5 separate regions of the Homo sapiens genome follow, and all the other regions are linked to region 3. Evidence: fine-mapped expression QTL. A gene starts in region 3. Each other region holds a variant in brackets. All regions are shown on one strand. Distances are between the middles of the regions.

What was found. PIP is the estimated chance that this variant, and not a neighbour inherited with it, causes the effect. A credible set is the group of variants that fine-mapping cannot tell apart.
Region 1: its variant is the best candidate, but not a certain one, in a credible set for the expression of NPTX2 in tibial nerve (GTEx, PIP 0.62).
Region 2: its variant is the best candidate, but not a certain one, in a credible set for the expression of NPTX2 in whole blood (TOPMed, PIP 0.50).
Region 4: its variant is the best candidate, but not a certain one, in a credible set for the expression of NPTX2 in aorta (GTEx, PIP 0.60).
Region 5: its variant is the best candidate, but not a certain one, in a credible set for the expression of NPTX2 in tibial nerve (GTEx, PIP 0.80).

Annotation. Positions count from the first base shown.
Region 1 is chr7:98,565,756-98,571,770 of GRCh38, reverse strand. No RefSeq gene overlaps it. Among named protein-coding and RNA genes, the nearest start is that of NPTX2, 49 kb to the left of the region's middle. The variant C/T (reference allele first, on the strand shown) is at 3,552.
Region 2 is chr7:98,501,105-98,507,119 of GRCh38, reverse strand. No RefSeq gene overlaps it. Among named protein-coding and RNA genes, the nearest start is that of BAIAP2L1, 100 kb to the right of the region's middle. The variant T/C (reference allele first, on the strand shown) is at 2,811.
Region 3 is chr7:98,614,038-98,620,052 of GRCh38, reverse strand. NPTX2 (neuronal pentraxin 2) reads right to left here and starts at 2,768. Exons shown (of 5, transcript NM_002523.3): 1 at 2,166-2,768; 2 at 194-410. The coding sequence starts at 2,591. RefSeq lists an enhancer at 1,314-1,940.
Region 4 is chr7:98,805,601-98,811,615 of GRCh38, reverse strand. No RefSeq gene overlaps it. Among named protein-coding and RNA genes, the nearest start is that of TMEM130, 61 kb to the left of the region's middle. The variant A/G (reference allele first, on the strand shown) is at 2,410.
Region 5 is chr7:98,657,353-98,663,367 of GRCh38, reverse strand. LOC105375419 (a long non-coding RNA gene) reads left to right here and starts at 5,764. Exons shown (of 3, transcript XR_927793.2): 1 at 5,764-5,992. The variant T/C (reference allele first, on the strand shown) is at 2,491.

The DNA of each region.
Region 1 (6,015 bases), 48 kb after region 3:
TTTAAGCCGTATGACTCAAAGAGATTCAGCCTCTTTTCAGCCACAGCCCTGGGCAGACGAATACGCTCCCTTGCCCAACTCACAGCCCCAGAGTTCTTCCTTCATTGCGGGTGCAGATCCACCTCGGGGAATGGTCTGTCTTGTTCATCACGGTCCCTCCAGGGCCCAAACAGAAGAGTTAGCCAGAAAATGTTTTTTTTCAGGCCATGAATGAGTGGATTTGTTTCTCTGGATGCAGCTTGAACATCCAGAAGCCAAGCAGAGCCAGGCAGAGGCCTTGGTTCTTGGAGTATCAACCCCTCCTTGCGAGCCCACCATAAGGCCAATGAAGCTCATATGTTTAAACCTGCAGATGTCAAGCCCCTGCTTAGGTTACATCCGCTAACCTTCCATTGGCTAAAGCAAGCCCATACCAAGGGAAACCATGACGAGGGCAGGGAAGGAAGGAAGAATTGTATGCAAATAATGCAACCTGCCCACCGCAGCTAGCCTGGAAGTGTCTCTGCGCCATGCAAATGTGCCTGCTGTTGGGGTTGGACCAGGGTGCCAACTCTCCCCAGACAGAGCTGGGAGAGGTGGGGGAGGGGTCCTGTCCAATGACTTTCTTTCCTCTCAACACAATCTTTCTTTATATAAGTTATACATTAAATCCAATTATAGTCCTGCTGACTGAGGACTCTCTCTTTAAAGTGACTTTGCCTACTCCGCTCTGATGCAGGGCATCTCAAGTCCATAATTCAACTCTGCAAGGGGAGTCCCTTTCCTTACTGCCCTGTTCTTTCAGGATGCCTTGCTGAGACCCCCAGGTAGCTGCTTCATGGGAGTGTTACTCCTCCAGGGCAGGAACCATATATTATTCATCTTGAAATTTATTTTTAGTTTATTTGTATTATTTTAGAGACAGGGTCTAGCTCTATTGCCCAGGCTGGAGTGCAGTGGTGCAATCATAGCTCACTGCAGCCTCCACCTCCTGGGCTCAAGCGATCCTCCTTCCTCAGCCTCCTGAGCCACGGGGACTACAGGCACACACCATCACGCCTGGCTAATTTTTTAAAAAAATTTATGTAGAGACAGGGTCTTGCTCTGTTGTCCAGCCTGGTCTCAAACTCCTGGCCTCAAGTAACTCTCCCCCTTTGGCCTCCCAAAGCACTAGGATTACACATGTGAGACAGGCCATGCGGCCCCTATGATGGAATTTTTCTGACTCTCTCAAACACCTATGTGGGGTTGAATATTGGCTTTGCACAAAGGCTGGTGATTTCAGCACCAATTTTCAACGTCTCTCTCCCCATGAAGCTTCAGCTCCAAGAGAGGGGTGGTTGTCTTGATCACCAGGGCACCTACTGTGCCTAGGAGGGTGCTTGTCACAGAGAGAAGCTGATAAACCACTGACGAATGAATGAATGAATGAATGAATGAATGAATCCTTGCTCTGCTCTTCCCACTGTCAGCTGCCTGTGACTTTTCTTTGCCCCTCAGCCTGACCGACAGCCTGAGAATTTTCAAGGCCATCTCTGCATTGTCCCTGCCATGACGCTGCCAAACAGGCGCTTATCGTTGGAGGACAGAACAGAACGTTCCCTTCCCCAAACCTTTCTTCCGTTCGGTTTTCCCGTTCGCCTCCCTCGGGCCCAACAATGGCTAATTCAAGGACATGAGTCACGCAGACGCTGGGTGTGAATTGATGGGGGCTGCGGAACAGATGTCACAAAAATCACATCCGCTGACAAGGTGCTGCTCCCTTTGTTTGCTTAGAGACCAGCCAAGAATTGGTCTTCTGGCCATAAAGGGGCCAGAAGTCCAGCCACCTGCTCATGCCCCGACCAGATAATTCCTAGAGGAGCCCCTCTGTCCCACCCGATGTGCTTCTGCGACTTCTGCTCCCGGCTCCGTATGGGGCTCGAATTTAGCATGTCACACAAGGAGGCCATTGTGTTCTGTTCGTCTTTGCAGAGAGAGCCGTTTCTGGGAGCAGGCACTGTGCCTGTTGCCTGAGAACCATTCAGAAGTGAGCACTTGAATCCCTGACTGTTCTGTTCAGCTATTACTCAGTTTCTGCCAGACATTCAATACACACACACACACAAAAAGCTACCCTCCTCGTCTCCAAAACACTAACAGGAAGACAGAGATCCATCCTGCTGCCACGGATTTTCTTTCTCCTTGTTTCTTTTTTTTTTTCTCTTTCTTTCTTTTCTTTTTTCTTTTTTTTCTTTTTTTTGGAGACCGGGTTTCGCTCTTTCGCCCAGGCTGGAATGCAATGGCGTGATCTCGGTTCACTGTGACCTCCACCTTCCGGTTTCAAGCAATTCTCCTGCCTCAGCCTCCCAAGTAGCTGGGATTACAGGTGCCCACCACCACTCCCGGCTAATTTTTGTATTTTTAGTAGAGACAGCATTTCACCATGTTGGCCAGGCTGGTCTCGACCTCCTGACCTCATGATCTGCCCACCTCAGCCTCCCAAAGTGCAGGGATTACAGGCGTGAGTCACCGCACCCAGCCCCTATTTCTCCTTGTTTCTGAGGTTAATGGGTGGCCCCTGGGGTCTGCAGGGGCATTTTTAATAGGCTCGTCCTGGCTGTGAGCTGAGGGGCACACACACTCACCGTCAATGCTGCCGTCATCTGGGAGGAGTAAGCCATGATCAGAGACCAGAGACTCAGCTTCATGAGGCAGGGAGGGATTCCCGGGCCTTAAGTGAGGCTGTGTTCTGGCTGCCTGCCAGGGACACGGCTCTGGATCCAGCTCTGGCCACTAATTAAGCCCCATTAGCTTTGCTGCCTGGGACTTGTGCCCCTAACTTTATGCCACGAGTACTTCCCCTCCACCTTTCCTGAAGTTTTTCCTTATTTCCAAATTATTCCACATCCTGCCCACCACTGCGGTAATTGGGGGCAAATATTTCAAAACCTTACACTGCATCAAGATGGGACATTTCTTAAAAATTGCTTCCCCAGGACAAGAAGTAGTGGCCCACACCTGTAATCCCAGCACTTTGGGAGGCCAAGGCAGGAGGATTGCTTGAAGCCAGGGGTTCAAGACCAGCCTGGGCAACATAGAGAGACCCCATCTCTAAAGAAACAAAAATTAGCCAAGTGTGGTGACACATTACCTGTAATCCTAGCTACTCAGGAGGCTGAAGTGGGAGGATCGCTTGAGCCCAGGAGTTTGAGGCTGCAGTGATTCCTGATCATGCTACTGCACTCCAGCCTGGGCAACAGAGCAAGACCCTGTCTCAAAAACAAAACAAACAAACAAAAAGCTTCCTCAGACAACATAGAATCAGAAAAATAAGGTCCTCTCACTACTCTTTTCAGATGTATCTTCCAGACTGCGGCTCCCATTGTCAGGGGAGTCATTTTGTTTCTGTAATGCATGTGTCATCTTTTACTTCTAGATAGCGTTTTGGGGTAGGGAAAGGAGTTGGGCAGAAATAAAGATGTCTAGGCGCCTTTTGTTCTGTGCAGACACATGCCTGAGAACTTTTCAGTGCCAAATAAAAGGAGAGTCTTTCTGGTCACAAGAGGAGTCTAATAATTTAGTTAAGCCTA[C/T]AAAGCAAGTTCCTTATCCGACTGTCTTTTATGATAATTGCTGCAGTGTCTGGCCCTGATGGGAGAGAAACTACAGCCCAGACCCAATGTCCTAATGACCTGGGGATGGCGGGCTTCACAGAGAAAAAGACAAATGTCAATTAGCACAGAATTTTGAAGACGAGCCAGAAATGTCTCCAAGCACAGGCCGGTGGCTGTGGATCAAAGGTTCCCTCCGATGCACACACATTTTCTTTTTGTTTTGCCATCTCTGAAATTAACTAACCTAAATATATATATACATTTAAATAGGAGCTAAGGGCCGGGTGCGGTGGCTCACACCTGTAATCCCAGCACTTTGGAGGCCAAGGTGGGTGGATCACCTGAGGTCGGGAGTTCAAGACCAGCCTGGCCAACATAGGGAAACCTGTCTCTACCAAAAAATACAAAAATTAGCGGGGGCGTGGTGGCACGCACTTGTGATCCCAGCTACTCGGGAGGCTGAGGCAGGAGAATCACTTGAACCCACAAAACAGAGGTTGCAGTGAGCCGAGATTGTGCCACTGCACTCCAGCCTGGGTGACAGAGCGAGACTCCGTCTCAAAAATAAATAAATAAATAAATAAATAAATAAATAAATAAAATAGGAGCTAAGACACCACCCTCCCCCGCCCCTCTATCAATTAATAGGTTCTTCTGGAACACAGGACCCAAGAACTGAGACATTCTCAAAGCCAGTGTGACATTCTCCAAACATCACAAAGTTAGTGAAAGATAATTAGATGGGGTTGGCCACAGCCTCGGTTTCTCGTCCCGAGACTAAATTTTTCCATCTCCCTGCCAGGGTCACGGCTGCCTGGGACCTACGAATCTCCCAGAATGTACAGGGATCCTATGGGAATAGACATGCCTTAACGGATTCCTCTGGGAATTTCATGGCCTCCGTTTCCCAATATTCAGGATGATGTGGAAGGAATGCAGTTTGGACTCCACCCTCTTAAAGGACCTCTGTAGTCCTGGCCAGGACAGCAGAAGTGGCAGCTCTCATATTCCTCCCTGATGCTTTGCCTCTTGTCTCTCCCCAAGGCCACTTGTAGAGATGCTTTCTTGCCTGGGGGCAGATGGGTGCACGCTGCTAGTTGTCATGGGAACCAAGGTTAATTAGTCGACCTGGATTTCAACTCTGATGTTGGTAGCGTGTCTCAGCAAAGACTTTTGGAAACAGCTGTCCCTGGTTGCACAATTCCCTCAAATGAAAAGTGCCCATAGTCTCTGCACTGCTTTGCCCTGGACTTCCTTCCCTATGTGTCATCTTGGGATTTTTCTGTAGTGTGGTACAAATCCTCTAGGAGTAGGGAGTAGCTCACCCTTCCACCTAGGGCTAAATCTAATAAACTAAGTGAAATGAAAGCTTCTGCTATTATCTGAGGCAGAAAGTCTATTTGGGGCTAAACTCTCCCCAGACACCGTGTTGTCATTTCTGCCAAAGGAACTGGACTGAAACACAGAAAAGCAAAGCTATTCATAGGGAAACTAGCAAATCCTTAGGCCTCACTCTGGTGTTAGAGGAAGGACAGACAGACAGATGTTCACATGCTGTAATGGACTCAATCACAGAATGTACACAAGAGGAGTAAATGAGAATGCTCTGTCCATTACAACATGCAAAGGAGGCATGAAGTGTCACCGTGATGACTTGAGGACATGACACACATCCCCTTCTTCACCCTGTCATTTACTCATTCATCCATCTATCCATCTACCTATCCATCCATCCATTCATCTATCTCTCCATCTATCCATCCATCCAACCATCCACCCAATGAGCTTTTATCAGGCACCTGTTATGTTTAGATCCCGACTTAGTCCATTTTGTGCTGCTACAACAGAATACCTGAGATTGGGTAATTTATAATGAGCAGAAATTTATTGACTCACACTTCTAGGGGGCTGGGAAGTCCAAGATCAAGGGGTTGGTATCTGGCAAGGGCCTTCTTGCTGTGTCATCTCATGGCAGAGGAGCAAAGAGAGGGCTAGGGAGAGCAAGAGATCAAACTTGCAGCCTCAAAACTTTCATAATCAGCATTAATTCATTAATGAAGGTGGAGACCCCATGACCTAAACACCTCCCATTAGGCCCACCTGCCAACACTGTTGCATTGGAAATAAAGTTTCCAACACATGCTTTTTGGGGGACACATTCACATTATAGCAGCCCTGATAGCAATTAGCATAATGCCAGGTCCATAGCAGGGGGTTAATTACGCTGCTGAACAAAGATACTGCCAAATATTAAAATATTCTGCTTGCCAGAGTCTCATAGATCCTCAAATGTATTCCCTTTCTTTGGCTGGCATTATTAAAGTTGTACAACCAAACTCCCTATTTAGTATTCTTCTGATGCGATATCAGAGAAACTATATGAAATATGACTGATAGGAGCAAACCAGACATCACTAAATCTTTCATTGGAATAATTTCACTT
Region 2 (6,015 bases), 110 kb after region 3:
TGCTCAGTCTGGTTCTGAACTCCTGAGCTCAAGCAATCCATCTGCCTTGGCCCTAAAAGTGCTGGGGTTACAGGCATGAGCCACTGCACCCAACTGAGACCTTTCGTTAGCCATTCTTTCAAAGTAGGTTGGCTGGTGACCAAATCTCTTAGTTTCTCTTAATCTGAGGATGTCTTAAATGCCTCTTCATTTCCAAAGGACATTTTTACTTCATGTAGAATTCTGGGCTGACGATTCTTTTCTGTAAGCATTTGAAAACTGTTGTGCTTCTTCTTTTATGGCCTTTATGGTTTCAAATGAGAAATCTGCTATAATTCGAATTATTTTTTCATATAGATGAAGTGTTATTTTCTCTCATTGTGTTCCAGATGTTTTTTAGAAATCTGATTATGATGTGTCTTGGAATATATTTCTTTGCATTTTCCTGATGGGGTTTGTTTACCAAGCTTCTTCAACCTGCAGGTTTATGTCTTCCATCACATTAGGTGGGGGTGGGGGGGTTCAGCCATTCTTTCTTTGAAGAGTTTTTAGCCCCAACCTCTTTCTACTCTCCTTTCGGGACTTCTATGACATTAATGTTAGATCTTTTATTATTATCCTATGGATCCTTGAGGCTTTATACAAGCCCATTTTCTCCCTGTGGTTCAGCTTGGGTAATTTCTATTATTCTTTTATCAAGTTTGCCACTTGTTTCCTCTGTCCCATCATTCTGTGGTCAAGCTCATTCACTGAGGCTTCATTTTGATTACTGTATTTTTCAGTTCTAAAATTTCCATTTGGGGCCAGATGAAGTGTCTCACGCCTGTAATCCCAGCACTTTGGAGGGCCAAGGCAGGTGGGATCACCTGAGGTCAGGAGTTCGAGACTACCCGGGGCCACATGGCGAAACCCCTGTCTCTACTAAAAATACAAAAATTAGCCAGGCATGGTGGCTCGTGACTGTAGTCCCAGCTACTCAGGAGGCTGAGGCAGGAGAATTGCTTGAACCCAGGAGGTGGAGGTTGCAGTGAGCTGAGATCGTGCCACTGCACTCCAGCCTGGGCAACAGAGCCAGACTCCGTCTCAAAAACCAAAAAGTAAAAATAAAAATAAAAAATAAAAATAAAATTTCCATTTGTTGTTTTTCATATCTTCTATTTCATATCTTCTATTTCTTTGCCAGGACTTCCTATTCCTTTGCTGAGACAGTCTACATTTTCATTTGTTTCAAGTGGGTTCACAATTATGGAAGCATTTTTATGACAGCAGCTTTAAAATCCATTTCAGATAATTTTAACATCTGTGCCATCTCAGTGTTGGTGTCTGTTGATTGCTTTGTCTCATTCGAGTTGAGATATTTCTCGATTTTGGTATAATGAGTGATTTCTTAAGTTGAAATCACTCTTATAATATGTTACAAGACTGTGGATCTTATTTAAACCCTCTGTTTTACCAGAACTCCTTCGAATCACTCCAACAGGGAGGAGAAGGGGTGCCTCATTATCACTGGGTGGGGGTGTCAGTCTAGGTTCCACAAGGGTGTCCACCAAACCTGCAGAGGGAGCGGCTTTCATGAGCACCCAGCAGGAATGCAAGTATCAGTCCTCACTGGAGGCTTCCCTGCCACCACCTCAGTGAAGGGCTGGATTAGGGTGCCTCATTACAACCAAAAAAGGTGACAGTCTGAGATCTACCCTTGGCCTTTGCTGGCAGGAGTGGGCATAGGTTCTCAGTGCTTTCAGCCTTATTTGGCTGGAGTGCAGAGGTTATTGCCTAAAGTTTGGGGATTTTTTTTGAGTGAGAGTCTCACTCTGTCACTCAGACTGGAGTACAGTGGCATGATCATGGCTTACTGCAGCCTCAATCTCCCCAGGCTCAGGTGATCCTCCCACCTCAGCCTCCCAAGTAGCTGGAACTACAGGTTTGCACCACCATGTCCAGCTAATTTTTGTATTTTTCGTAGAGACGAGGTCTCGCTGTGTTGCCCAGGCTGGTCTTGAATGCCTGGGATCAAGCGATCCACCTGCCTCCACCTCCCAAAGTGCTGGAATTACAGGTGGGAGCCACCACCTCTAGCCCAAAGTTTTTTTTTTAATCTCATGAGGCTGTCCCTTTCCTGGCCCTTTCCTCTAGTCATTTGGCTTAAAAAAGCAGGCTTTTTTTGGAGTGTTTAAAAAAAAAAACCTGTACCTGTTGGCATTTCTAGGCTGCCAACTTCTTCAGAACGCAGTCTGGGATATATGAGACAAGAAGAAAACCCAGGGACCTCACTGCCAGGCCATTCCTTGAGTTCTGAACTCCCAGCCCATCTGCCTTCTCTCCCCACCATTCAGAGTCTTCATCTGTTTGTTTTACATCCAATATTCAAAGGTTTTAGCTGCAAAGGAGGAATTGTGAAAAGTATGTCTATTCCACCGTCCTGGAAGCTGTGGCTTTGTTTTTTTTTTTTTTTTTTGATAAGACATTTAATTCTCTGATCCATCTAGAATTCATTTTTACATAAGGAGCAACAGAGGGACCCCAGTTCCATGTTTTTCAGACTGTGCTAAGTTATCTCAATACCATGTCTTGGATAATCCCACTTTTTCTCTACTGATTTGAAATGCCAAACATTTTCATGCATATGGGAAACTGTTTCTGAATGTATTGTGTGCTATCAACCTGTGTGCTTCCTTATACCAATTGGTTTATTTGCTGTCTCATCCAATGTATGCAGTTTTCTAGAGCTTGTCTCCTCCTTGTTCTGCCTGGGGGGCCCCAAGAGCCGATTCTGCAGACCCTCTTCCTCACACCCTCTGGGCGTGTCTGTCTTAGTTTCCTGTGACACAAAC[T/C]AGGTGACTCAGAACAACACCAAACTCAAGCTGTTGCAAGGTTGTTTTCTTCTTGGGGGCTCAGGGGGAAGATCTGCCCCTTGCTTCCTTCCTGGCTTCTTGAGAAAGGGTCTCACTCTTGCTCAGGGTGCAGGTGCAGTACAGTGGTACAATCATGGCTCACTGCAGCCTCACTCTCCCCAGGCTCAGGTGATCCTCCCACTTCAGCCTCTCAAGTAGTTGGAACTACAGGTTCGCACCACCATGCCCAGCTAATGTTTGCATTTTTTGTAGAGATGAGGTCTCGCCATGTTGCCCAGGCTGGTCTTGAATGCCTGGGATCAGGCGATCCGCCTGCCTCTGCCTGCGGCTGCCGGCAATCCTTGCAGGACAGTGGCTTGTGCATACACCACTCTAATCTCTGCCTCTGTCATTGTATGCCTGTCTTCCCTCTGTGTGTCTGTGTGTCCTCCTCTGATGATAAGGACACCAGTTGTGTCAGATCAAAGGCTCCCCTACCACAGTTCGATCTCATTTTACCTTAACTCATTACTTCCATTACTTCTGCAATGACCCTGTTTCCAAATAAAGTCACATTCTGAGGTCCAGGAAGGACATGAATTTTGGGGGGTACACAATTCAACCCAGGACAGACTTCAAAAGGCTGCACTTGGCCAGTCACGATGGCTCGCGCCTGTAATCCCAGCACTTTGGGAGGCCAAGGCAGGCAGATCACCCAAGGTCAGGAGTTCGAGACCAGCCTGGCCAACATAGTGAAACCCCGTCTCTACTAAAAAATACAAAAACTAGCCAGACGTGGTGAGGGGCGCCTGTAATCTCAGCTACTCGGGAGGCTGAGGCAGGAGAACTGCTTGAACCTGGGATGTGGAGGTTGCAGTGAGCCAAGATCGCGCCACTGCACTCCAGCCTGGGCAGCAGAGTGAGATCCATTCTCAAAAAAAAAAAAAAAAAAAAAAAGTCTACGCTTGTCAAGACACTCCCTCCCCACCCTCCCCACAACATTCATTCACCTTCTCCAGCTCCTCAGCATGGGAGCTGACCAGAGCCTCTCTCCTGCCTCCAGGTGTCAATCACTCTGCACACTCCAGGAGCCCATCAACCCAGCTTCCCCAGCCTACTCGCACTCCACCACCTTTTGCATGGGACGTTCTTTTTCCCTTTTCTTTTCTTTCTTTCTTTCTTTTTTTTTTTTTTTTGAGATGGAGAGATGGAGTTTTGCTCTTGTTGCCCAGGCTAGAGTGCAATGGCACAATATCGGCTCACCACAACCTCCGCCTCCCAGGTTCAAGCGATGCTCCTGCCTCAGCCTCCCGTGTAGCTGGGATTACAGGCATGCACCACCATGCCGGCTAATTTTTTATTTTTAGTAGAGACGGGGCTTCTCCATGTTGGTCAGGCTGGTCTCGAACTCCCAACCTCTCAGGTGATCCGCCCGCCTCAGCCTCCCAAAGTGCTGGGATTACAGGTGTGAGCCACCACACCCAGCCTGCATGGGGCCTTCTTAAGAGGGGCAGCCCATCGGGGACTCACTTATGGTGGGAATTCCTTGGTCTGCATCACAGGTCACACTCTGCAGGGGAACAGGGCAAATGGGCACCAGCAGGGGAGGTCATCAGGGTGCCTCTGTCGGGGCAGGTGGGGCTCAGAGCTCTCAGAAGCATTGCACGGGAGGGCAGACATCCAGGAAAATATTTTTCCACCTGACACCTTGTTCAAAAGGCACAGAGTCCAGCCAGGTGCAGTGGCTCACGCCTGTAATCCCAGCACTTTGGGAGGCTGAGACGGGCAGATCATTTGAGATCAGGAGTTCGAGACTAGCCTGGCCAACATGGTGAAACCCCGTCTCTACAAAAATACAAAAATTAGCTGGGCATGGTGGCGGACGCCTGCAATCCTAGCTACTAAGGAGACTGAGGCACAAGAATCACTTGAACTTGGGAACTGGAGGTTGCAGTGAGCCAAGATCACGCCACTGAACTCTAGCCTGGGCAACAAAGCGAGACTCCATCTGAAAAGAAAAAAAAATGCACAGAGTCCTAGCAGAGTTGATAGTCTGTGCTGGAAACCAATTCAATGTCAAGCATATCACATAGAATATCCTTGTTCCTCATTAAAGCCCTGCAAGGGATACATTGTTCCCATTGTACAGGAGAGAAAACTGAGTCTCACAAAGGGTTAAGTAATGTGCCCAGGTCACATACAAGGAAGACACAGACAGGGGTTTGAACCAGCTCTGTCTGGCTTCTCCATCCCCCTTCCAAATGCACTGGGACTCTCTGAGGGCTCAGCCTGGCTATGCTGCTGGGTTTACCCTCTACTATTTATTGCCTGCAAGGCCACCGATATCAACCTTAAAAAAACTTCCTGGCCTGGCACGGTGGTTCATGCCTGTAATCCCAGTGCTTTGGGAGGCCGAGGCAGGAGGACTGCTTGAGGCCAGGAGTTCAAGACCAGGATGGGCAACATAGTGATACCACCCCCCTACAAAAAAAAATTGTTTTAGAAAATTAGACAGGCATGGTGGCACATGCCTGTAGTCCTAGCTACTTGAGAAGTTGAAGTGGGATCACTTAAGGCAGGAGATTGAGACCAACCTGGGCAACATAGTGAGATTCCATCTCTATGGAATATATATATATAAAGTTCCAGGCCAGGCTTGGTGGCTCATGCCTGTAATCCTACCACTTTCAGAGGCCAAGGCAGGTGGATTGCCTGAGCTCAGGAGTTCAGGAGTTCAGGACCAGCCTGGCCAACATAGAGAAACGCTGTGTCCACTAAAAATACAAAAAAAATTAGTCAGGCATGGTCATGTGTGCCTGTAGTCCCAGCTACTCAGGAGACTGAGGCATGACAATCGCTTGAACCAGGAGGCAGAGGTTGCAGTGAGCCAAGATTATGCCATTGCACTCCAGCCTGGGCAACAGAGTAAGACTCTATCTAAAAAAAAAGAAGAAAGAAAGAAAGAAGGAAGAAAGGAAGGAAGGATGGAAGGAAGGAAGGAAGGAAGGAAGGAAGGAAGGAGAGAAAGAAAAGAAAAGAAAAGAAAAGAAAAGAAAAGAAAAGAAAAGAAAAGAAAAGAAAAAAGAAGTTCCTGTCAATGACCTCCATCTTTAGCCAGGAAGAACTCAAAAGTATTGAATGTAATTTGTCCAATCAGCCTCAGGGAAAAGGAGGCTCTCACTACAATGTTACTTTGATGGAAATT
Region 3 (6,015 bases):
ATAATGCCAGTGGGGCTGGCAGCTCATTCCTGAGATGACCTTGTTCAGTCGCCTTTATTATTTGCTCACACACTCGGGAACCAGGCCCATGTGGTGTCACAATCCCTGCTGTCCATCAACCAGAATCGCATGTCTGACCACAAGTGGTGAAAATCAGGCCACTGCCAGACAGAGAAACAGGCCAGGCACACACCTCGCTCCAGCTCGGTGACCCTCTGCAGCAGCGCGTTCAGGGTGCTCTCGGTCTTCTGCCGGTGAGCCGAGGTCTCATTGTGCAGCAGGGACTTCTCGTCCTCCAGCTCTGCCACCTTGCGCAGAAGCTGCCTCTCCAGCTCCCCCAGCCGCTGCTGGAGCACCTCGCGGAAGTCGCCGGGCAGCCCAGCATTGGACACGTTTGCTCTGAGCTGGTGCTTTCAGCCACCGGGGAGGAGGGAGGGGCACAGAAAGAGTTAAAAAGAAATTGTGAAATGTGGCTGTGATGGCCCGACCACACAGGGAGAAGCTTCCAAAACGCAAGCCCTGAATCTTGCCACTGGCAGGCAGGGGAGCATCTCACTGATGCTTTTTTGGTATGGAAAAGATTTCAAAGTCAGATAAGAATTACTTTGCTGCAATATTTGAAACTTGTGAATCTAATTTTCCCTTCTCAAAAAGCCGTTTTTCTCCTCTTACTAAAAAGTCAATATTCTAACCAACGCCTAGAATTCTATGTTGGGTAGAGACCAAAACTCAGCTCCAGGATTTTTTTTCTTTTTTAAGAGTAAATCGATGGTTACACAAAGCCAAGGAGCTTTCACCTAGAAATGAAAACAGCCCCCAAGTTCCGGTCTGGCACCAAGGTAAATAACTATGCATGCAGAGATGTTTCTGGAAAATGACAGATCTAAAACGTTGCTATTCTGAACTCCAGCAATCTTTGTTTTTAATGCTGTTTCTAAATCCTCACTTCCTATTTCTCTTTCTCCCCTACCATCATGTGGTTCTGGAGGCTGTGGCAGGCTGCCTACCCATGAGTTCATGGCAAGCTATTTACCTTTCTCCACAAAGTGTTCCAAATTGTGAAATGCACATAATGGGACCTGCCTCATGCCATTCATTGTTCCAAGGATTAAAAAATTAAATGATGTGCCTGACTCATATTTAGTGCTCCAGAAATGTTAGCTGTTAGCAATCACAATGAATCAGGGGATATACAGATGCTGGAAATACTGTATTCAGCCCTCACGCCAAAAGAAACCCTAGAGTCATTTTTGCAATAATTACCACCTGTAATTTAAACCTAGTTTTGCTGAGAAGTATTTTCACAAAGGCTATTAACAGCAGTGTCCACACTTCTTAAAAAGGGTGGAGCCTAAAGATGAAAAATAATTGAAGATTTTTCTCTCAAAGTTCCAAACTGCACGCATTTTCAGAGATAGAGATGAGACGGAGGCGGGAGCGGGGGGCGGGGGGGGGGGACGGAGGGGGAGGGGGGGAGGGGGGGAGAGAGAGAGAGAGAAGGGAATGAGGTCCCTTCCCCTGAAGCAATCCGGAAGAGCACCTTAAAATGGTCCAACTTGCAGACACGGGAGTCTTTGAAGTTAACCAGAGGTTGCCCCTCTAATGCGCGCTCTGGGGTCGCCGGTGACCCCCTGCGCTCGCCTCCCTGCGACCTCCGCCCCCAGACTTCCGCCCCCTCTAGCTCAGCCTGACCTGATTTAAAGAAAGAAACACCACATGCCCGGGGCAGCTGACCTCCCGCGGCAGCCTCGCAGCAACCCGCACGGCCTGCGGGAGCGCATCCCGGCTCGCGGAGATTTGGAGATTTGCAAGAGGATAGAGGCTACCGCGTCCCCGGGTATTTGGCGCCCGCGGCTTGGCCGTCTGGGTTCGCTAGCCCGGACCTCGGGAAGTGCTCGGCGGATCCCGCTGGCAGTCCCGACGCGCGGGGGTGGAATTTAAACGTTTCCTTCCAGCAAGAGCAGCGGTGTGGGAAGGGATACCACGCAGGGGAGTTCCCGAGCAGGATCTAGATCCCCGCCTTTCACCCTCAAGTCCAGCTCACCCCCACGGACGATCACACCCTCCCCAGGGCCAGGCCCCCTTTCCCCATCCTCCCGAGTCTTCCGCCCCCGACTCGGGAGCGTCCCCATTCCAGGTCCCCCGCGCTCCCCGCGGGCCGCTACCTCGAGGCTCTCCAGGCGGTCCTTGAGGGTCTGCAGCGAGCGGCTGAGCTGCTCCACGACGTGGCCGGGGTCCCGCGGCAGGTCGCCCATAGTGTCCTTGCCCGTGGCCCCCGCGCCGCGCGCCTTGCCGCCCGCCAGCCCCTCGCAGCGCGCTAGCTTGCCCGTGAGCTCGCGGATGGCCTCGCGCTGCGCGCCCAGCGTCTCCTTCTGCTGCACGACGGTCTCGCGCAGCTGCAGCACCGCGGCCCTCAGCTCCTCCTCGGGACTCTGCGCGCCGCCCTGCATGGGCATCGCGGGCAGCGGGCAGCCGGCGTGCACCGCCTCTGGGGGCAGTGCCGTGCACACGAAGCGGCTACCGGGCGCCGGGCTGTCCTGGGCCCCAGCGGCCACGGCGAGCGCCACGCTGGCGGCCAGCAGCGCCAGCATCCCGCCGCCGCTGCCGCGCTCAGCTCGGCATGGGCGAGCGGGCGCCGTCGGGGCGCTCCGCGGGAGGCGCCTTCGCTGCTGGCAGTAGCCGCGCTGTCGTCTCGAGGGTCGCGTGCACCGCGGGGCAGAAGTCTCCTGCCGTCTCACAGCCGCACCCACCGCGCTGCTCGGCACTCTGGCCTGCCGGGTCCGCGCGCCCTTTCTTAAGCTGAGGGGCGGAGGGGGCCGGCGTGTGGGGCGCGCGCCACGAGCTCTGATTGGCTCGGCCGGGTGCGCGTCACGCAGTGGGCGGAGCGGGGCGGGGCGGGGGCGCTTTCCGTTGCGCGCCTGGCGGCCGGGCGGGAGCGTGGGCCGGAGCCTGAGGCGAGAGCGCGAGGTCCCGGGCTCTGCCTCAGGAAAGGAGGCCTGAGGTGGAAAACGACACTGGGGCTCTCGAGAGCCTCGGCTGGCCGTGCCCAGGCGCCCCTCGAACCCACCCGAGGACGCGGGCGTCACAGGCTGAGGAGAAAGTGGGAACCCCTCGGTGTCCCGGTGCCCCTTTCTCAGGGTGGCTTCTGGCGCGGCACGGGGCCTCGCTGCGCGTTTGCCGCCGCCCTCAGGGAGGCGTTTTCTCCAGCAGGAGCAGCCCCCCAGGCGGGACTCGAACCCCGACTGCCATCGCGAGCCACCCCCGCGGCAGGCGTGGGCCTTCTCGTCAAGGCCCGGCCACCTCACTCTCGAGGCGGGAAGGAGCCGCACGACGGCCGCCTCCGGATGCAACGGTCCCCGGGACGCGCTCCATGGCCCCGCCTCCACCCCCCGCGCCAACTCGGAAAACGCTCGGGAAGAATCCCGGGGGCCTCGGGGACCGGGACCAGGACCAGGCGCCGGACGCTGATGGGAAGGAGGGGACACCCGGAGTTAGGGACAAAGTCACGAGGCCACTCGCAGAGCCCTCGCGCGCGTGTTCATCGACTGCCCCCTGGGCGGTGACCTTATTCAGCAAGACCTGAGCTCAGGGGCGGGGTGACATCTAACTGGAGTCATCATGATGGAGCCACGTGGTCCAACAGTGCCCGGTCCTTGTAACCAGGAGGGCCCGCAGTGTCACCACTTCCTCGAAGTGAGGCCACTGCCCTCAGCTTCTTGGAGACAGCAGATATGAGCAGAAACCCCCAAAAGTCAGGAGCAAATTTGTTTCAGAATCTCTCCAAATCTGTGGCTTAAAACAAGTTCAGAGGGATTTTGGTGCACAGCTACAGACTGAGCTGGTTTACTGCACATTTATAAATGGAAATCTTTATTTCTTTTCCTCTCTATGTTTTTAAGAAATCCTGTTGCAAGGTCATTAATCACGTTATCCATTATACCACAAACAAATGGATTTGTCACTTGTGCGCAGAAGCCGAGGTTGATTCTGAAAGCAAATTGTACCAAAATAAATGAAATTATTATGATAATATAAACTAGACTGCAGTGATTAATCTCTAGAAACCAAATTCTGACCTGCTTTGCACTTCAAACAATAGCTTCTATTATGTAAATAGTTGTGGGGTTTTCAAGGACATTATTGCTAAATTATAAGAAAAGTTCTATTCTTGAAAATCTCTTCGTGGATAAAAATGAGAGACAGGAACCTGGTCTGCAAGGTATCCAAAGCAGAGGACAATGGAAGTAATGATGGTTCAGGTAAGAATATTCATTAGCAGAAAAAGGTATGGATGGGAGATTTGGGGTGAGTAATGGGCTCATGTTTCTGTTAGCCTGCATCCCCAGGAGGTGTCAGTTTCACCTTGTTAAGTATGACCTTGACTGGACTCATTCTTCCTACATCCTTTTTCAGCTGGATGAAAACTCGAAAAAGTTCAAATAAACCTACATATGCACAAATTACAATAATGAAGGCAACAGGGTTGCAAAGCACTTTATGCCTTGTTACATTTCAGATGATTCATAAGGCACCAAATCCAGACGTTTTCAAAATTATTCAGATAACGATGTGACTTTTCCATTTTCACTCATAGCTTTGATGTTCCTCTTTACTTGTAGACCTAGGTGGCCCTTAATTGGATGTGACAATAGAGTATTATCGTTCCTGTATTGTTCCATATATCCTTTCTTGACACACAGACTGATACATTCATATTTGCAACTACTTGAAGTAGAAGCTTGTTCCTTTAATAATTAAACAAAATCAAGTATCTTTCCAGAATTCTAATTTCCTCCTGAACAAAGAAAGCAGTGTACAAGAGTAAAAATAGCATATATCCCAATATAATTACTCCTAAACGTCTTAAAAGAGATTCCAGTATGAGAAGTGATCAGTGAAATTGCCAAAGCTCAAATGGAAAGACCCAGACATTTGAAATGTTATTTTCTTTGGAGGCAGTATAATTAGAGGCTTAGTTAACAGAGTACATGCTATTTACAGTTTTATTTTATCTTCCTGGTGCAATGAAAAGCCTGCTGGCTTAGGAATGAGGGATCTAGTGCTAATTCTAACTCTGTCACTAGCTAAGTGGTTTGGGGCAAGTCATTTCTCCTCTGGACTTCAGTTTTCTTGCATATAAGATAAGGGAGGGGCGGGGGTTGGGCACGGTGGTTCACACCTGTAATCCCAGCACTTTGGGAGCCCGAGGCAGGCAGATCACAAGGTCAAGAGATCGAGACCATCCTGGCCAACATGGTGAAACCCCGTCTCTACTAAAAATACAAAATTTAGCTGGGTGTGGTGGCGCCCGCCTGTAGTCCCAGCTACTTGGGAGGCTGAGGCAGGAGAATCGCTTGAACCCAGGAGGCAGAGGTTGCAGTGAGCCAAGATCATGCCACTGCACTCCAGCCTGGTGACAGAGCGTGACTCCATCTCAAAATAATAATAATAATTTTAAAAAGATAAGGGGATTAGACGCAACTGTCTAAAGGTGCTTTGGCTGTACTCAAGAGCATGATAGTTTGAAAAAGAAGGAATCACTGTTGGTGTGAGGAACGTTTCAGAAACTTGTTTTTTCTGTGTGTGTTATTAACCACCTGTAGCCAAAGGTGAATGTGGAAAGGCAGGGTCGTTTTGTAGTACAGCAGGTAAACCTTCATACACGGAGACGCCGTAGTTGTGGTTAAAACCTGCTTTCGACAACACGAAAGCTCATACTGGGTTTACTCACAGCACAACAACTTTGTCTACCTGAAAGATCCTGCATGTATGACTCATGCTACCCATGAGGATGGTTATGTGAGTGGCAGAGACCAGGGCCCACAGATTTTCCTCCACTTGAAAAGTCGTGCAGATCTGCAGCAGTGAATCAGCTCCACCTAATCTCTTAGTGTAACTGATGCTGCAGCATAGTAACCACCCACTCATTCACTATGTCGGCTGGTCCCAGGTCAGCTGTGAGCCCAGTATGGACTTAAACCGTGTGCTGGGAATCCTGATGAGCTCATTCCGCCT
Region 4 (6,015 bases), 190 kb before region 3:
TACCAACCACCACCACCACCACCACCACCACCACCACCACCACCACCAACCATCACCACCATCACCACCACCACCACCACCCACTACCATCACCACCACCATCACCACTACCAACCACTACCACCACCACCACCATTACCACTATCACCACTACCAACCACCACCACTACCACCATCACCACTATCACCACTACCAACCACCACCACTACCACCATCACCACTACCAACCACCACCACTACCACCACCACCACCATCACCACCACTACTACCACCACCACCACCATCACCACCACCACTACCACCACCACCACCACCATCACCATCACCACCACCACCACCACCACTATCACCACCACCATCACCACTACCAACCACTACCAACCACTACCACCACCACCACCATTACCACTATCACCACTATCAACCACCACCACTACCACCATCACCGTCACCACCACCACCACTATCACCACTACCAACCACCACCACCACCACCACTACCACCATCACCACTACCAACAACCACCACCACCGCCACCTCCACCACCTCTGCCAACCACCACCACCTCCACCACCCACCACCACCAGCCACCACCACCACCCACCACCACACCACCACCACCACTGCCAGACACTCTGATTTCTTTGGTGTTGGGTGAGACCTGGGCAGGGGGATTTAAGAAAATCTCACTAGATGATTTCACTGGAAAAGTAACAGTAGGCTGGTCTGGAAGTTAGGACAGCTGAATCTGCCTCCAGCTCTGCCCTGCCTTGTTGGGTGACATTGAAGCCACCTGGTTTCCTTTCTGAGCCTCAGTTTCTCTATATTTTCCTGCCTGGAGGCAGAGCTCCATACACTATAATCTGTTCCGCATTGTTACGGATGCTGGTGGTCAGTCACCCCTGGTTAGCAGAGATAGGCATTCACGTCTGCAGAAAAGCCACCCAGGAGGCAAGGATTCCTTTCTTTCTTTCTCCACCCTGGAGACGGCATCCCCCACAGCTCTCTGGGATCCTCTTGTCTGCTCCTGGCTCCCACAGCTTACAGCTGTTTTCACACAAAGCCTAAGACCTCCTTAGGCTTCTGGTCCTTGCAAGAGCCTTTTGTGGTGCATTGGGAAGTGGGAGAGGAGGCAGAGGGTGTACAGATGGGATGCGTACGCTTTGGCCTATTTTCCCAGCTTTCTCTGGCTCTGGCTGCTCCCCAGGGGCCTAGGGAGCTTGTGATCCATTTGGTGCCACAAGCCACGTTTTTGGCCTGTGTCCCAGTTTCTCCAGCCTGTGGGTTTCAGCTGTTCTCCTGCGGCCTGTAAAGCTGGAATTCACTGACCCCCCTCTCTGGGGGGTGGGTTTGGTTGCCATGGAGATGATTTGCCTCTCAGCATCTTACATCTTCCCAGGATGGGGCAGAGATCTGCGTTCAGATGTGGTCTCTGCAGGGAAGGGAGTCCAGCACAGCAACAATAGCATTAATAGCCGCAGTGACCCAAACGGGTTGAGTGCTTCCCCCAGCCCAGGCTCTCTGTGGCACCAGCCCTGAGCAGTCACTGCTGTGGACAGCCGTGGGGTATGGTGCTTGAGCACATTCAACAACCCAAGTGATGTTTTGTGTCTTTTTCTGTTTTCTGTGGCTATAACAGAAAACACAGACTGGGTGATTTACAAAGAAAAGATGTTTATTTAGCTCATGGTTCTGAAGGCTGGGAATTCCAAGAGCATGGCACCAGCATCTGGTGAGGACCTTCCTGCTGCATCATGACATGGTGAAAGGTGTCACATTGGGAGAGGGCAAGAGTGTGTCAGCTCAGGTTTCTCTTCCTCCTAGAAAGCCACCAGTTCCATCACGGGGGCCCCTCACCCTGATGGTATTATCTAATCCTATTGAGACAGGGTCTTGCTCAGCTGTCACCCAGGCTGGAGGGCAGTGGCGCAATCTTGGCTCACTGCAATCTCCGCCTCCCAGGTTCAAGTGATTCTCCTGCCTCAACCTCTCAAGTAGCTGGGATTACAGCTGCCTGCCACCACACCTGGCTAATTTTTTTTTATTTTTAGTAGAGGCAGGGTTTCACCATGTTGTCCAGGCTGGTCTCGAACTCCTGACCTCAAGTGATCCACCTGCCTCGGCCTCCCAAAGTGCTGGGGTTACAGGCATGAGCCACTGTACCTGGACCCCAGCACATTTTGAGCCTTTGCCACGCTTGCATTGGCTCACATTCCCCTTGGCAGGGTCACCTGGCTGAGCCCAACATCAATGGGGCTGGAGAGTTGTAAGTACATGCTCAATAACCCAACTGAGCCCAGCCACTTAGCAGTTGGGCAGACTGGGGCACATCCCCTGCTGTCTGCCATCCTCAGCTCCTGCCTCCCTAAAGTGGGAAAACATGCACAGCACCTGCTGGCTGTGAAC[A/G]TGAGTGCAGGTAAGGCCCAGTGCGTGACTGTGACCAGTCACCTGGGCCAGGTGTCACAGAGGGCAGTGCTGATGCTCTGTAAATCCCAGGATTTCTGTTCTCAGCTTGAGTGGGGAGACTTTCTTCTCCACGTTCTAAACAATTAGATATCAGCGTGGCCACCTAAAGCCCTGGTGGTCCACTCAGGCTTGCAACTGGGACACAGGCCAAGTCCTGACAGTAAGCATTTCCAAGGGGGACAAGAGGGATTTTCCTGGTTTGCTCCCCTGAGAGTTGTTCCTTGCTTTTATGTCCTTTCCGTGATGACTGTAATGAATCCTGACTCTGGTTTATATATTGTTTTTCTTTGTTTGTTTTTTGTAGAAACATGATCTCGCTATGTTGCCCAGGCTGGTCTCAAACTCCTGGCCTCAAGCGATCCTCCTGCCTCAGCCTCCCAGAGTGCTGGGATTATAGACCACTGGTTTATATTTACCGAGGACTGAGTTCTCTATTCTCTGCTCTTGTGCAGAAATTCCACGTGCAGGTAACGTCCGTTGCAACAATTTCAATCACCACAGTCGATCCTTACTGCCCCACACATCGCAACCCCCACAAAACTCACCTGTTCCTGATACTTCCACAGGACCTTCTTCCTCTTTCAAGAGCACTGGGAGGAAGGTATTGATCCACCTGGTGTTATTCTACACATATTTGCAGCTCAAAACCTACAGACACCATTGGATGCTTGCTGTGTATCAAGTCCTGGCTAGGTACTGGGGACCCAGCATTATCTGACGTGTCCCCAGTCAGGTGGGGGACACCTGGCTGTTGAGGGACTGACCTAACCTGTATCATGTCATTGGAATGATCTGTATATATTTCCTTTCTTTTCTTTTTTTTTTTTTTTTTTTTTTGAGACGGAGTCCAGCTGTCGCCCAGGCTGGAGTGCAATGGTGAGATCTCGGCTCACTGCAACCTCCGCCTCCCAGGTTCAAGTGATTCTCCTGCCTCAGCCTCCCAAGTAGCTAGGATTACAGGCGTGCACCACCATGCCTGGCTAATTTTTGTATTTTTAGTAGAGACGGGGTTTTGCCATGTTGACCAGGCTGGTCTTGAACTCCTGACCTCAAGTGATCCGCCCGCCTTGGCCTCCCAAAGTGCTGGTATTACAGGCATGAGCCACCATGCCTGGTCTCTGTATATATTTCTGCCTCCCCGGCCAGTGGGTAGGGCCCACATCGCACCCAACCTTCTCATATCCTTGGTAAACAGTTGACATCAGTGAGGGATGCAGGCTGGGGCTGAGTTGCAGTTTTCCTACAACATCACTGCTGCCTCCAGGGAAAGTTCTGGGTCCTTGGCAGCCTCCTCAGCATGCCCAGAAAACCTCCGTTTCATAACCAGAGTGGTCACCAGGAACCTCATGCCCTATGGGCCTCAGTCTTCCGTGGGCTGGAAAACCAGAAGTCTGCTTTTTTTTTTTTTTTTAAAGTTCTGCTGACAGCCCAAGAATCTTGTGATTTATACGATTAATATGAGAAGCAACATCATTATTCTGTTAATATATTATTCATTTCACTAGTGATCTATTGTCTCCACACCCAGCTCCATGAGTCAACTTTCCCTCCCTGCTATTTTAACAGAGCTGCATTTTAAATGGCGAGAACAGTACATTAAACATGTATAAGATGTAATCTCATTTGGAATGCGCTCTTCCAGCTGATCTGCCTCATAAGCATAAAAACAACAATGCTGCCTGGTGTTATCGGGCCCCACACGGCTGGGCAGCTGAGAACAAAATCAGGCTCTAATTAAGGAATATGTTAAAACTTCTGATTTGCACCTTCTCTTTGCCGGTAAGAGGAGGCAGCTCTGTCCCCATGCTGCCTAGTTTTCAGAGGCCCCAATCTTGAAGTGCCCCTGCTATTCCCCATCCTTGCTAACCACACCCCTGATAAAGCACATGTGGGGAAAGAGCAAAGGTGGGGCTGCTCTCTGTACAGTGGTGCACTCCTGTAATCCCAGTGCTTTGGGAGGCCGAGGCAGGAGGCTCACTTGAGGCCAGGAGTTCCAGACCAGCCTGGGCAACATGGTGAGACCCCCCTCTCTACAAAAAATAAAAAATTGGCTGGGCATGGTGGTGCATGCCTGTAGTGCCAGCTACTCAGCAGGCTGAGGCAGGAGGATTGCTTGAGCCCAGGAGTTGGAGGCTGCAGTGAGCTATGATCATGCCACTGCACTCCAGCCTGGGCAGCAGAGTGAGACCCTGTCTTAAAAAAAAAAAAAAAAGAAGCAACAGGTAATGGTTGAGATTAAATGATTGTCTCAGAGGAGGATGAGAGCTTATCTCAGTTTGGGTTGCCCAAGAAGTAGACCCTGAGACAAGGAGTCAGAGGCACATAGTTTATTTGGAGGTGGCCTTCTCCAGGAAGAGGGGGGATGGAGTGAGGCTGGACATAGAAAGCAGCCAATAAAGAGCAAATTATCAAGGAAGTTACTGCTATGGGCAGCTGGAGCTCAAAGCTGCCAGGAAGCTCTGGGAGACAGCATAGACACACACTTCAGAGTTATCTACTCCAGGGGTGAGGGAGCTGGGGTACTGATACTCCAACAGTCTCAGCCAGCATTGATTGAGGACAAAAAAACAAACAAACAAAAACAATATATAAACCTGAATCAGGATTTGTTAGAGTCATCATGGAGAGGACATAAAAGCAAGGAATAGTTCTTAGGGGAGCAAACCAGGAAAATCCCTCTTGTCCCCCTTGGAAATGCTTACTCTCAGGACTTGGCCTGTGTCCCAATTGCAACTGATACTCCAACACCCCTTGAGGGCTTTTGGGCAGTCATGTGTTCAAGCACAGGCAAGCAGGCACTGGTGGTCAGAGAAAGCCATCAGGCCACAAGGTATGCAGGCTGGCAGTTGGAAGCCCAGTGGCCTGCATGGAAGTGGTAAGGCCAAAGGGAATATGAATGTGATTCCGGCAGCATCTGCCATGAAGCTTCATCCATCTGAAGGAAGTACAAGTGCATGGCCACGAAGATGGAACCTCAGACATGAGCTGGGGGTGCATGTTCGGCCCTGTCCAGTCCTGTCTGTGGCTTGGCTACTACAAAACTCTTTTCCTCTGGGGACTGGCCCAGCACAACTGGCCAGGATGACACATCTCTCTCCCCTCTGATTCCAACTCCCACTGCCTCCTTTGATCATTCATTCAGCTTGCCAGGAGGCTCCATTCCAGGAAAGGGGGTCCCAGATAGTAAACATGAGTATTGGGTCTGTGGGAAAAGATAATGCTTGTGAACCACCTGGAGATGTTTCCCATCTTCCTCCCATGAGTCAGCTTCCAAGAGATGTGGTTTGCTCTGTGCCCCAATAGTTCCCAGTATTTGGGTCACATTCTGGGGACCAGCCAGGCTGCTTTCTGAAAGATGCCTCGCTGCTCCCTTTCAGGCAGCAGCAGACTTAGGGCTGCCTCATCTTCCTCTTAGTTCTCCCTTTCTCTGTCTGCTGCCTTCACTGGCATGAGCTCCTTGGAGCATGGACTGTGCATAAGAAGTTCTGGTGAGCACCATAGGACAGGGTGAGAAAAAATGAATGAAAAAGAAGGTTCTGGTTTCAG
Region 5 (6,015 bases), 43 kb before region 3:
ACAGCAAGGGATGACAGAAGCCTAGGATTCATAGACAGCCTGTACTCCAGGGCTCAGGAAAGTTCTCTGGGGCAGATGGAGTCTCAAATGCATGTGCTCCACTTGCACTGAAGTTGAGGGACACTGAAAATCAGCCCATCTAGGGTTTTATGCCCTGGAGAAACATGGCGCACTGGACAAAAGCATTGAAGAAACTGACACAGGAACAGAAAACCAAACACCGCATGTTCTCACTCATAAGTAGGAGGTGAACAATGAGAACACATGGACACAGGGAGGGGAACATCACACACTGGGGCCTGTTGGGGGGTGGGGGGCTAGGGGAGGGATAACATTAGGAGAAATACCTAATGTAGATGATGGGTTGATGCGTGCAGCAAACCACCATGGCACGTGTATACCTATGTAACAAACCTACGCATTCTGCACATGTATCCCGGTACTTAAAGTATAATAATAATATAAAAAAAGCATTGAAGGACAACCTCTTTCTAGGGGCTGGGGGTTGGAACAGAGGCTGGGCTGTGCTAGCTGGTTCCTCCTTGTTTCAGCTGTCTTTCCTGCATTCTGAGTGGGAAAGAGGTCGGGGGGAGAACTGAGACCATCCAAGCCCACCCAGAGAACTGTCCCATACTGATTGATTTCTCTATCTGTCCCTCACCTCTGCAAATAACCCCCGCCCCTCCTTAAACAGTCTCTGCAAAAATCCCAGCCTCTAGTGAAACCATCACCCGAATAGTGAACATAGTACCCAATAGTTAGTTTTTCAACCCTTGTCCCCCTGCCTCCCTCGCCCCTTCTGGAGTGAGGGTGCACCTGTTTCCTGGGGGACTGTGAGTCACCCATGTGGTCTGCTGCTCCTCACCTCCGCTCCCAAGCTGCCACCCCACCTGAGGAGCAGTGCAGGGGCCAGGGCAGAAAGGGGCTATGCCAGATGTCCTCCCAGACTATGCTGTCCCAGGCCACCCAGAGAGCTCAGGCTGTAGCCAGGGCCTTGGGGGAGCAGTGTGTGACATTGTCACCCAGTGGTAGCCTTCTCTCCCCCAAAGGAGCCCAAGCGTCAAGCCAAGAGTGGCACCATCTTGAGGGTGAGAAGGACAAGCATGAAGTTGTCCCGTGCATGTGAGAGGCTCAGGGGATGCTTCACTGGTGGGAGCCCTAGGGGACACTTGTGTTTTCGTCCCTGGAGCTGTCCTCACAGGCTGCAGGACTCACGGGCAGCACTGGCCTGGGAGCCACAGATCAGCTGGGAGACCTCGGGCACATTGCTCTCCCTTGGGAGTCTCAAGTCCCTCCTCTGTGGAAAAAGCTGAAGTGAAGGAGTGTTATCGGGCAGTACTCTTAAGTTGTAAGGAACTGAAACCTCACACATAACATCCTTAAATAAAAAGGATCTTTATTAGCTCACAAAACTGAAAATTCCTGAATGGGTGGGCTTCAAAGTCAGGTTCAATTCAGCTGTTTGACAACACCAAGGCCCTGGTGTCTTTGGTCCCTCCACGCTACCTCACCAGAGTCAGCTTCACTGAAGGCTGGTTTCCCTCATGGTCACAAAAGGGCTGCCATTGCACTGGGGCTTCACTTCCCCCAAGGCCTCGCAGAACCTCCTGTTGTGCCATCCTGGCTGGAGAAGGTCACCATCCCCATGGCCGGACCAGTAGAATTTAATGAATTGAGTCAGATCAAAGTCAAACAGGGTCCACCTCAGAGACAGGGGAAGAGGGAGTCCTGGAGCAGAAATCTGATTTTTTTTGTTGTTGTTTGTTTGTTGTTTGTTTTTGAGATGGAGTTTCACTCTTGTTGCCCAGGCTGGAGTGCAATGGCACGATCTCAGCTCACTGCAACCTCTGCCTCCCGGGTTCAAGTGATTCTCCTGTCTCAGCCTCCCAAGTGGCTGGGATTATAGGCGCCCACCACCACGCCCAGCTAATTTTTTGTATTTTTGGTAGAGACGGGGTTTCATCATATTTGTCAGGCTGGTCTCGAACTCCTGACCTCAGGTGATCCACCTGTCTTGGCCTCCCAAAGTGCTGGGATTACAGGTGTGAGCCACTCTGCCTGGCCAGAAATCTGGGTATTTTCAGTTGGGAGGCTGGGCACACAGGCTGGGTAGCACCCCTAACTATGTCTACTGTGTAATCTCAAAAGTCCCTGACAGCTTGAACGCTGTTGCCAACATTGTTGAAAGTGCCAACAAAAGAATCATGAAATCTATATTATAAATTTGTTAGGAGACTTTCTTTTTAAAATGAAATTACCTTTTTTTTTTTTTTTTTTGAGACGGGGTCTCACTCTGTCTCCTGCTTTTTGACTCTGAATGTGAGCCTGCTTTCTGACTCTGGGGTCAAGTGCTCCAGAAAGCATGGGCCTCTGCCGTGCCAGTTGAGCAAGTTCTGGATTTACTTAGCACTGGCATCCACGGAGACTGAGACCCGTATCACTCACCCCTACAAATGAGGGGGTTGGGCTTCCAAGAAGCCTGGGGGTCAG[T/C]GGAGGCTGAGGGCCGGCAGTCGTCTGTCATTGAGCAAATGTGCTCGCTCTCCAAGGCGCACAAAAGCCAATACCATGGCCACAGCTTTAGAGAAAAGCAAGGGCTTTACTGTAAGACAGCCAGGAGACAGGAGGCAGACTCAGATCTGTCTCTCTAATTTGGAGTCTGGGGCAAATTCTAAGGGATCAAAGAGCAAGAGAAAGGATTTAGGAATGTTGGCATGGCAGGATCTGGTTGGAAGGCTTCAAAATGGACAATTTATAGTCAGGTATGTTGAAGTGGATTTTAGCCCCAGATCTTCTGGGCCAACAGACCCTCGCTTGTGGACGAATTTCAGTATTTAGGTTTTTTGTCATGTCCCAGTCTTCTTGGTTCCAAGGGGAGAAATTATTGATTCCCAGTGTTGTTAGAGGTCAAAGCTTTTTCTTTTGTTCCTTCTTTCCCCCACCACCCTTTTTTGTTGTTGTTGTTGTTGTTTTTTTAAGACAGTGTCTCACTCTGTTGCCCAGGCTGGAGTGCAATGGTATGATCACAGCTCACTGCAGCCTCAACCTCCTGGGCTCCAGTGATCCTCCTACCTTAGCCTCCCAAGGAATGGGGACAACAAAGCATGTGCCACTATGCCCAACTAATTTTTAAAATTTCTGAGTAGATGGGATCTCACTATGTTGCCCAGGCTGGTCTCAAACTCCTAGACTCAAGCAATCCTTTTGCCTTGAAATCCTCTTGCCTCTGAAAGTGTTGGGATTACAAGCATGAACCACCATACCCAGCCTCAAAGCTTTTTCTACCATTCATGCCTTGGCTACATGACTTACAGCTGTTATAGCTACAAGATAAAACTTGACATTTTGCTATCAACAGAGTAGGCCCAGCTTGGGCAGGTCCCGTGGCTCCACCTGCAACTGGAGAAGGTGGTCTTCCTGCAAGTCCTTGTTTCTTTGCTGATTGTCTCTCTCTGGCTGAAATATGAGCCCTGGGAGGCTGAGGGACTCATCTGTATTAACTGTCACCTGGAACGGCAGCAGGCACAGAGCATAAGCCCCAGAAATACTGAGCCCTAGAAATACTGGTGAAAGAGCAGGCCTTGCTCAGCCAGTGGCGGCTTCTTGGTTCCTCTTCTTTCTTTCTTTTCTTTTTTCCTTTTTTTTTTTTTTTTTTGAGATGGAATTTTGATCTTGTTGCCCAGGCTAGAGTACAGTAGTGCAATCTCGGCTCACTGCAACCTCCGCCTCCCAGGTTCAAGCGATTCTCCTGCCTCAGCCTCTCGAATAGCTGGGATTACAGGCATGCGCCACGACACCTGGCCAATTTTTCGTATTTTTATTAGAGACGGGGTTTCTCCGTATTGGTCAGGCTGGTCTCGAGCTCCTGACCTCAGGTGATCCGCCCGCCTCAACCTCCCAACATGCTGGGATTACAGGTGTGAGCCACTGTGCCCAGCCTTGGTTCCTCTTTCTATGTATGTGCAGCTCTAAGAGAAAGGGGGGTGTGTGTGCCAATGGAGGGTCCCAGCCAAAGCTGCCCCTGCCCAGGCATGGGACAATGCATTCCCAGTGCCTCCCAGGGACATGCCAAGCCCTCCCATCCGGTTACCTGGCATCTCCGTGCTGTGACCTCAGAGAAGTCACGGTTACCCTCACTCCCAAACACTTCCCACCTGGAATCACATCGATCAGGCGGGCCAGATGGTTCCCAGAAATAGCAAGACACGGCTGGACAATTTGATTAACTTGCCTAATGAACTCTGAATTCACTCCATTTTTTTTCCATGACAACTGTATTTTCTCTCTAAAATTGTTATTGATTCTTCATATGTGGAGACGTAGGTGGGGCAGGAAAGCACATTTTGCACACGGAGGACAAGAAACCAAGATGTGGAGGTGGAGAGAGGAGGAGGTGGGCGAGGGCAGGACTCAATGTCTATCTTGAGCCCATGGTGGTCTTACGGCCCCTTCGGAAGACTGTCTTACACCTGGCCATTAGTCATCAGTGGAGGGGGGCCAGCTAAGGGGCGGGTATGGTTGCCAGATTCTGCAAATAAAAATACAAGATACCCAGTTAAATCTGAATCCAGGGCCAGGCGTAGTGACTCATGCCTGTATTCCCAGCACTTTGGAAGGCTGCGGCTGGAGAATCGCTTGAGCCCAGGAGTTCGAAACCAGCTTGCCCAATATAGTGAGACCCCCATTTCCACTTAAAAAAACGAATTAGCCAGGTGTGGTGGTGCGCAACTGTAGTTCCAGCTACTGGGAAGGCTGAGGCGGGAGGAGCCCAGGAGCTCCAGACAGCAGTAAGCTGTGAACGTGCCACTGCACTCCAGCCTGGGCAACAGAATGAGACCTAGTTTCGAAAAGATTTTTAAAAATTTGAATTTGGATAAACAAATAGTTTACAGTATAAGTCTATCCTATGTAATATTTGGAATATACTTCTACTAAAAAATAATTTGCTGTGTATCTGAAATTCAGATATTTCTGGGCATCCTGTATTTTATCTGTCAACCCTAAGAGTGGTAAGGTGTTACGTCCTCGGGTGCTCAAAGCTGGGCTGCAGCCCACAGACACCTACTCCCAGAAAGCTGGTCCAAGCAGGGACTCAGATGCTACAGGACCCGCCAATGCTCTTCTAACTGCTGTTCCTTCTTTCTGTCCACCCCGTCCTTCAATGCATAGGTCGGGACTCTTCCTCCCTGATGGGTTTCACGAATCAAGTTCCCACCTGGGTCGCGTCTCTGAGCCAGGAGTCGAGGGACATAAACGTTGCTATTTACTGCAAGAGCTTATCCTGAGCTTGGCCTGCAGGCAGCAGCGCATGTGCCGATTAAACCCGCACACCTCCGTGATGCTTCCCCGCCCATTTATCCAGGAAGGAAACAAGGCTCCAAGCGGGAAGGCGCTTGCTGGAAAGGACTCAAGACTCAAACCCAGTCCCCTGTCCCCGGCCATAGAGGTCACATCTAGAGATTTCCCCAGGAAAGTCACCAGTGTCCCGGCTCTGATGCGTCAGGGTCGGGGCGAGGACAGAGGGGACGAGGCAGTGTGGGGTCAAGGCCCCAACACTCTGGCTAAAAGTGGCCTCTAGGGTGGGCTGGGTAACCGGAGAGGGACTCTTAAGTAGCCGTCTGTGTTCATTTGCTAGGGCGGCTGGGACAGAGTACTGCAAGTCAGATGGCTTAAAACACCACGAATGTGTCCTCTCACAGTGCTGGAGGCCAGAAGTCTGATATTGTGATGTCAGTGGGGCCGCGCTCCCTCTGAAGGCCCCAGGGGAGGCCCCTTCCTTGCCTCTTCCAGCTTCTGGTGGCCCCAGGCCATCCCTGGCTTGCAGATACGTGGCTCCCATCTCTGCCTCGGTCTTCACATGGGGCCTCCCGTCTATGTCTCTCTGTGTGTCCCGTCCTCTTTTTACAGGGACACCAGTCATTGGATAAGGGCTAATGATCCTAATCCAGTGTGAGCTCATCTTAATTAATTACATCTGCAAATGCCCCATCTCCAGGTAAGGGCTCATGCTGCAGCTCC